Regions from separate parts of the Homo sapiens genome. Here region 2 is linked to region 1. Evidence: fine-mapped expression QTL. A gene starts in region 1. The other region holds a variant in brackets. All regions are shown on one strand. Distances are between the middles of the regions.

Region 1 (4,387 bases):
CACTCAGGTCTCTTCAACAATGCCCAGGGTTCTGGCCTAGGGAGCTGTTGGGAGGGTGGTGGGACAGCTTTGGGCACTGTGATGCAGGTGAGCATCTGATACAAGCAGGTGCACGTTATATAGAGCACCTGGCACATAGTAGGTGCACCTTATGTAGAGCACCTGGCACACAGTAGGTGTACTTTATGTGGCGTACCTAGCACATAGTAGGTACACTTTATGCGGCATACCTGGCACACAGTAGGTGCTCTTTATGTAGCATATCTGGCACACAATAAGGCACACTTTATATAGTGTACCTGGCACACAGTATGTGTGCTTTATGTCAAGTATGTTGCACCGAGTAGTTTTACTTTATGTAGGGGACCTAACACACGGGAGAAGCATTTTATGTGGAACATCTGGCACACAGTAGGTGTGCTTTATTTAGAGCACCTGGCACACAGCAAGCATGGTTTATATAAAGGGCCAGGGACTCAAGATACAGGATTTGTGAAGGGCTCCCAGCATACAGTAGACAGTATTTATGTGGAGCTCCTGGCACACAGTAGGTGCACTATATGTAGAATAGCCAGCACACAGTAGACAAGATTTATGTAGATTACTTGATGCAGAGTAGGTGCGCTTTCTGTGGGTCACCAGGTACGTAGTACACATGCTCAATGTGGAGCACCTGACACACAGTAGGTATGCTTTATATACAGCACATGGCACAGAGTAGGCACGCTTTATATGAAGTACTCTGCATAAAGTAAGCTTACATTATGTACAGCATGCTGCACACAGTAGGTGAGCTTTATGTGGCATACCTGGCACATAGTAGACAGAATTTATGTACAGTATCTGATACACAGTAAGTGCACTTTATATAGTGAAACTGGCACACAGTAGGTGCACACAGTAGTGCTTTCCGTACAGTCTTTCGCATGGAGTAGAGACAGGCACACAGCAGCTCAAGTGCTAGTTGTCATCCCCTTCCCTTCAGTCCCTCTTTTTGGAGCTCCCTTTTCTTAGGAGCCTTCCTCCGTCGCCCTCTAAGGCCTCATCTGACATCCCATTTCCCAGATGGGAAGCCTGAGCCCAGGATGGCCACACTGCCCACAGTCAGAGAAAGGACAGGGCAGAACAAGGACTCCACTCGGGATCCCCTTGCTCTGCCCTCCCCTGCCTGGACCCCGTCAGCTCAAGGCCCCTCTCAGCCTCATCCCCTGTGCCTCCGCTCTGTCCTCCTAAGCTGAGCCCAGCTTCTAGGTTTGCTCCTCCAGCTGGGCTCTTTATCCCCAGAATCTGACGAAGGTAATCCTCAGCGGGGTTGGGGCTGGATTCTTTCTTCCTGCTTCAAGCAGTCAGGCCTCAACTCAGGCCCTGGGCTGCCAGGAGGCAGGACTTGAACTCTTGCCAGGCTGTGAAGCCAGAGATGAGAGGCTTCTGTCTCTGAATCTCCTAAGTCTGCACCAAGATGTAGTGCCTGACATCCTCCCCGCCCATGTTTGGAGAGGAGCCCAGATGATCTGGGACAAGGGTTGGCCTGGCCCAGCTCAGCTGGCTGCCAACTGTCATGATAAGTATATGCTTTTATCTGAACACCCTTGTCTTGGAAGGGCAGGGTGGAGGTAAACTTGGGGTTCAGAGTCCCCTCTAACCACCCTCCAACTTCCCCTGCAAACTCCCAAGAAGGTACTGAGACCTGAGAATTCAGTGCTCGTGCTGGGGCACCCTGAGCTGCACCCAGTGGGCCCAACCCCAGGTTTTGGCTGGCTGCCCAGGCACGGAAGACACACCCAGGCTGTGGGGATTGGCTGCCTCAGCCCAGCCCAGCCCAGCCCCGCCTCCTACGGCCTTCCCTAGATCAGGGGCCAGGGCCAAAGACCTCCCAGCAGAAGAGGAGAAGAGGTTGTGTGGGACAAGCTGCTCCCGACAGAAGGTACCAGGCTGGGGGTGGCAGGGCTGGAAGGTCCTGGCCTGGGATGAAGAGGGGACTGCCTAAGGCTGGGGTGGCTCCAAGATGCTGGCATGGGAAACTGGGGGTTTCCTGGTAACTGGACTCCTAGCAAACTCCCAAGGATTCAGGTGGGGCCCTTCTGGACTCTAATCGGCCCATCTCTTTCCCTTTCTGTGTGGTTACCAGGTTACTGGAGGCCACTTAGTTGTTGGTTTTGGTTGGGACTTTCTGGACTTCAGATCTCAGCCCTCGTTTACTCACCCCTGAGCCCTCCCTGCCCTGCCCCCAGCAGTTCCTGACTTCGCCCCTATACACTGTCCCCGGAGCTCTTCCCTGGGCCTCAGGTCCTCACCCTGCATCCCCTCTGCCCTGCAGGATGTCGCTGCTGAGCCTGCCCTGGCTGGGCCTCAGACCGGTGGCAACGTCCCCATGGCTACTCCTGCTGCTGGTTGTGGGCTCCTGGCTACTCGCCCGCATCCTGGCTTGGACCTATGCCTTCTATAACAACTGCCGCCGGCTCCAGTGTTTCCCACAGCCCCCAAAACGGAACTGGTTTTGGGGTCACCTGGGCCTGGTGAGTGTGACAGCAAAATGTGTCTGGGGTCTCAGGGTGGATGGACTTCCAGAGGAGCAGGAATGGGGCTCAGTGAGCTAGGTATTGATGGTGGCTGGGGTCTGCGACCCCAGAGAAGCAAGAGAGATGGCTCACTCATTCCTCTGCTAACTCACTCATTCCTCTACCCACTCACTCCTCTACCCACTCACTCACTCCTCTACCCACTCACTCACTCCTCTACCCACTCACTCATTCCTCTACCCACTCACTCATTCCTCTACCCACTCACTCCTCTACCCACTCACTCACTCCTCTACCCACTCACTCACTCCTCTCCTCACTCACTCATTCCTCTCCTCACTCACTCATTCCTCTACCCACTCACTCACTCCTTTCCTCACTCACTCACTCCTCTCCTCACTCACTCATTCCTCTCCTCACTCACTCATTCCTCTCCTCACTCACTCATTCCTCTACCCACTCACTCACTCCTCTACCCACTCACTCAATCCTCTACCCACTCACTCACTCCTCTACCCACTCACACATTGCCCTCCTCACTCACTCATTCCTCTCCTCACTCACTCATTCCCCTCCTCACTCATTCCTCTCCTCACTCACTCATTCCTCTACCCACTCACTCATTCCTCTCCTCACTCACTCATTCCTCTACCCACTCACTCATTCCTCTCCTCACTCACTCATTCCTCTCCTCACTCGCGCATTCCTCTCATTCGCGCATTCCTCTCATTCACTCATTCCTCTCCTCACTCACTCATTCCTCTCCTCACTCTTATTCGTCTGCTCACTCACTCATTCCTCTGCTCACTCATTCCTCTCCTCATTCACTCCTTCCCCTCATCACTCACTCATTCCTCTGCCCACTCACTCATTCCTCTACCCATTCACTTATTCCTCTATCCACTCACTTTTTGCTCTCCCCACTCACTCATTCCTCTCCTCACTCACTCATTCCTCTCCTCATTCACTGATTCCTCTACCCACCGACTCATTCCTTTCCTCATTCATTCATTCCTCTGCAGTTCCATGCCAAACCTTTCTCACCTCCCTGTCCTCCCACCTCAGCCTGCTTGGATCCTTTTCCTGCCTGTCTTCCCTACCGTAGTGCCCCTCCCAGAGGCTCCTGTATGGTTGTGGGGTGCACAGAGCAGGGCTCTCCTGGCATTCCCACCTTCTCCACTGCTGGACTTGAAGCCTTCTGAGCCCCGATAGACAGGCTGCTCCCTGCATGGCCCATTTGCTTGTATCTGCCCATCTCTGGGCTGCTGCTTTCCCGCAGGAATTATCTCTGACTTCCTTCCCCACGGAGGGACACAGCTGGACCAGAAGAGAAGTGCAGGCAGTCTCCCACACCCTCTCCTTCCAGGGACAATGTGCTCTTCCCCAGTAAGATGTCCCAGTGAGCCCTGTAGCCCAACCTGGATATAATTTGGCCACTCCCTTCCCCTTTCAGAAGCCGTCCTTGGTACTCCCAAACCTTTCCCTCCGACTGGGACCGGCCCTCCCCTTTGGGGGATGTGGCCTCTGTCTGCTCACTTACAAAAGGCAGGATTGATCGGTGTGTCCACAGGTGCACAGGAGGCACTAGCACAGAACCTGGCATAAGTGAGGCTCTCCTAGGTGGGAGCTGCCATCCTGATGGACATTAGAGTCACCTCTGCTCCCCTGGAGGCTGCTGAGAATGGAGGGCCCTCAGGACGCAGGCCCTTTGTCTGTGGGAGGAACCAGTGCCCATGTGGACCAACCAGGACACAAAAGGATATGGCAACCAGCTCTAGGGATATGTCCTGAGGCCACACTGCTGCCCACAAACCTCCTTCCATGGGGACCTTCCCATATAGCAATCCCCAGATTGAAATCAATCCAGG
Region 2 (4,387 bases), 32 kb before region 1:
AGCAGCACTCAGTAGGCACCCTTTATGTACAGAAGGCAGCCCACAGTAGGTACACTTTATGGAGCACAGGCAACACTCGAGCAGGCAGCACTCAATAGACCCTCTTTATGTAGATCAGGAAACACTCAGTAGGAAGTCACCATATAGAGCAGGTGGTATCAGTAGGCACTGTTTATGTAGAGCACTTGGCACTCAGTAGGCATGTGTTATGTAGACAGCAACTGGTGCTCAGTGGGCACTCTTCATATACAGGGGGTGGCACTCAATAGGCACTCACTATGTAGAGCAGGTGGCACACAGTAGGCACTCTATGAGGAATATCAGGAACTGAGTATACAGGGTTAATGTAGAGCACCTGGCACACAGTAGGCACACTTTATGGAAAGCACTTGGCACAGAGTAGACAGGATTTAGCACCTGGCACACAGTAGCTGCCCTTCATTTAGAGTATTGGCACACAGTAGAAGTACTTTCCATGCAGCCTTTGTGCAGAGTAGAGACTGGCACACAGCAGCTCAAGTGCTAGTTGCCACCCTTTCCCTTCACTCCTTTTTGGGGCTCCCTCCTCTTAGGAGCCCTCATTGTCCCCCGCTAAGGCCCTCATCGAACATCCCATTTCCCAGATGGGAAGACTGCACCCAGGAGGGGCAGTACTGACCAAAGTCAGAGCAAGGATGAGGCAGAATGAGGACTCCATTCATGGTTCCCTGGCTCTGCCCTTCCCCTGCCTGGACCCCATCCGTTCCCTCTCATCCTAACCCTCCACGTCCCCGCTCTGTCCTCCTATACTGAGTCCGGCCTCCAGATTTGCTTTTCCAGCTGAGCTCTTAATCTCCAGAATCTGACCCAGGTAATCCTCAGTGGGGCTGGATTCTTTGTTCCCGTTCCTAGCAGTCAGGTCTCCAACAGGGCCCTGGACTGCCTGGAGGCAAGACTTGAACTCCATCCAGCAGCAGGGGGATAGAGGCTTGTCTCTTCCAGGTTGCCTGATTCAGCATCCAGAAGTGGTACACGGTGTCCTACCGGCCCAGGGTTAGAGAGGAGCACAGGAGATGATCTGGAACAAGGCTTGGCCTGGCCTGGCTCGCTTGACACCTGAACTCTCAAGTTCATGCTTTTATCTGCCACACACTCAGTAGGTGCTCTTTAAGAGCAGGTGTCACACAGTGGAAACTCTATCTGACCCCTCTCGGCTTACTCTCCACCTTATGTGGGAGGTGCTGAGACCTGAGGATCCAGTGCCTGTGCTGTGTCACCCTGAGCTGGTTCCTCTGCATCCAGCTGGTCTCCCACACCCAGGTTTTGGCCAGCTGCCCAGACATGGGAGCGGCACCCAGGCTGTGGGGATTGGCTGGCCCAGCCCAGCCCAGCCTAGCCTCCCACAGCCTTCCCTACATCAGGGGCCAGGGGAAAAAACCTCCCAGAAGAAGGGGAGAGGAGGTTGTGTGGGACAAGGTGCTCCTGACAGAAGGTGCCAGGGTGGGGGTGGTGGGCCTGGGGCATCCTAGCCTGTGATGGAGATGGGCACTGGGCAAGGGATTGGGCGCACACATAGGGGAGCCCCAGCCTTCCCACATTCTCCATTGCTGCCCAAGGCCCAGGCAGCTCCTGGTTGCTGGCTTGGAGGATGAGTGGTTTTCTAACTGAAACCAAGCCCCTGGCAACGTCCTAATGATTCAGGCTGGGCCTTTCTGGACTTTAATCAGTTTCTCTGTCTTTCTCAATCTAAGTGCTTACCGGGTAACTGGAGGCCACTTGGTTGCTGGTTTTGGCTGGGCCTTTCTGGACTTTACCCCTCAGCCCCTGTTTATCCATCCCTGTTTACTCTTACTGTTCTATCTCCAGCACTGCCCGTCTCTGCCTCTCTCCACTGTCCCTGGAGCTCCCTGGGCCCTTCCCTGGGCCTCAGGACCTCACTCACCACCCCATCTGCCCTGCAGGATGCCACAGCTGAGCCTGTCCTCGCTGGGCCTTTGGCCAATGGCAGCATCCCCGTGGCTGCTCCTGCTGCTGGTTGGGGCCTCCTGGCTCCTGGCCCGCATCCTGGCCTGGACCTATACCTTCTATGACAACTGCTGCCGCCTCCGGTGTTTCCCGCAACCCCCGAAACGGAATTGGTTCTTGGGTCACCTGGGCCTGGTGAGTGTGGCAGCAGGACGGGTCTGGGGTCTCAGGGTGGATGGACTTCCTGAGGGGTAAGAATGAGGCTCAGGTGAGAGGGGGTGGGCTGGGGTCTGGGGTGGCAGAGAAGCAGGGGAGGCGTCTTACTCATTCCTCTGCTTACTCATTTCTGTGAGGTGCCAACCCAAGCCCTTCTCACCTCCCTGTTCTCCCACTCTTGGCCTGTGTTGAATCCTTTTCCTGCCTGTCTTTCCACATTAATGCACCTCTGCGGGGCTCTTGGGCAGGGGGTTGGGTGCACAGAAAGGTGAACCCCTGGCGTTCCCACATTCTCCATTGCTGGACTCGAGGCCTCCTGTACCCACTGTTCAGGGTCCTCTCCCTACCTGGCCTATTTCCTCTTATGAGGGTATAGGTGGGCCAGAGGAGAGGTGTGGGCTGTCTCTCACCTCCACCACATC[C/T]GGAGGCACCTTCCTCTTATCTTGTTCCTCCCCAGTAAGATGTCCCAATGGGGTCCTGTTGCCAAACCCACATAAAAGTTGGCCACTCACTTCCCCTTTCAGAAGCCTTCCCTGACCTTTCTCCTCCCCCAGACCTTGCCCTCTGACTTAGACCTGCTCTCCCCTTTGCGGAACGTGGTCTCAATCTGCTCATTGCAAATGGCAGGATTGATGGGTGTGTCCACAGGTGAAGTGGGAGGGTGCACAGGATGCACTAGCACAGAGCCTGGTGCAGAAGCTTCTCCCAGGTGGGAGCCACTGTCATGATGGACAGTTAGAGTCACCTCTGCTCCCCTAGTGACTGCTGAGAAGGGAAGGTCCCCTGTGTGCAGAACCTTCTCCATGGGAGGAACTGGAACCTGTGTGGCTGGTGGAGGAACCAGCCAGGGCATGAAGGGATGTGGGGACCAGCCTTAGGGACATGTCCTGAGTCCACACTGCTCCCCACAAACCTCCCCTGTGAGGACCTCCTCATATGCCCACCTCTGGGCTGAAATGACTCCCAGAACAAGGAAATTTTTCCTCTCAAGCTAAGTGGGCCTCTGTGAGTGGACAGTGTGTCTTTTCCTTCTGCCTTGGGATGCGCTCTTGGGACTTGGGGGTGGCCCCAAGAGAGATAGAGCAGGAGGAATGTAGACAGATAGATAGGTAATAGGATAGATGGATGGATGGATGCACAGATAGGGTGAATAGATGGCTGGCTGGCTGGATAAGTAGGTGGGTAGATAGACAGATAGATAGATAGATAACAGGATAGATGGATGGATGGACAGATGGATGCATGGATAAGATGGATGGATGGATGGATGGATGGATGGATGGATGGATAATACATACATAAAGTAGTAGATAAGATGGATACATTAGGTGGATAGATAGGTAGAGTGGATATGTAGGATGGATAGATTAGATGGATGGATAGATAGCTAGATGATTGATAGATAATAGGATAAATGGATGAGTGGATGAATGTACAGATAAGATGGATGGATGGATGGATGGATGGGCAGATAGATATATAGATAGAAAAGTTAGATAGGATGAATAGATTAGATAGATAAATGAATAGATAGATAGGTAGGTAGATAGATAATAGGCTAGATGGATGAATGGATGCACAGATAGGATAGATGAATGGATAGATAGACAGATATATAAGATAGAATGGATGGATTAGATAGATGGATAGATACATAGAAACATAGGTAGATAGATAGATTAGATAGATAGATAGATAGACAGATAGATACATACATACATACATATATAGATACATAGATAGGTAGATATGTAGAGATATATATAGGTAAATAGATAGATAGATAGATAGATAGATAGATAGATAGATAGATAGATAGATAGACAGACAGGCAGACAGACAGATAGATAGATAGAAGAGGGAGTTTATTTCGGGAATTGGCTCACAGGATTATAGAAGCTGAGATGCGTCATGGACTGCTGTCTGCAGGCTGGATAAACAGACACTGGTTGTGTAACTGAGTCCAAAGGCCTGAGACGGTGGAGTTCTGGTGTCCAAGGGCAGGAGAAGATGGATGTGCCAGCCCCACAACAGAGCAAATTAGCCTTTCCTCTGCATTTTTGTGCTACCTGGGCTCTCAACAGATTGAATGAGCTCTGCCCACACTGGGGAGGGTGATTCTTCCTTCCTCAGTTTACCAAATTGAATGCCAGTCTCTTCTGGAAACACCCTCACAGACGGATGATCAACTATCTGGGCATCCTTTAGCCCAGTCAAGTGGACACCT

Alleles and levels. Alleles are on the strand shown, and positions count from the first base shown. SD is a standard deviation of normalised expression in the study named.
With allele T in place of C in region 2, the expression in whole blood of the gene that starts at base 1,876 in region 1 is lower (large effect, 0.84 SD a copy in Lepik 2017).

What was found. PIP is the estimated chance that this variant, and not a neighbour inherited with it, causes the effect.
Region 2: its variant is fine-mapped to the expression of CYP4F12 in whole blood (TOPMed, PIP above 0.99).

Annotation. Positions count from the first base shown.
Region 1 is chr19:15,671,212-15,675,598 of GRCh38, forward strand. CYP4F12 (cytochrome P450 family 4 subfamily F member 12) reads left to right here and starts at 1,876. Exons shown (of 13, transcript NM_023944.4): 1 at 1,876-1,924; 2 at 2,318-2,516. The coding sequence starts at 2,319.
Region 2 is chr19:15,639,475-15,643,861 of GRCh38, forward strand. It overlaps CYP4F3 (cytochrome P450 family 4 subfamily F member 3), which reads left to right and starts at 1,423. Exons shown (of 13, transcript NM_000896.3): 1 at 1,423-1,471; 2 at 1,941-2,139. The coding sequence starts at 1,942. The variant C/T (reference allele first, on the strand shown) is at 2,583.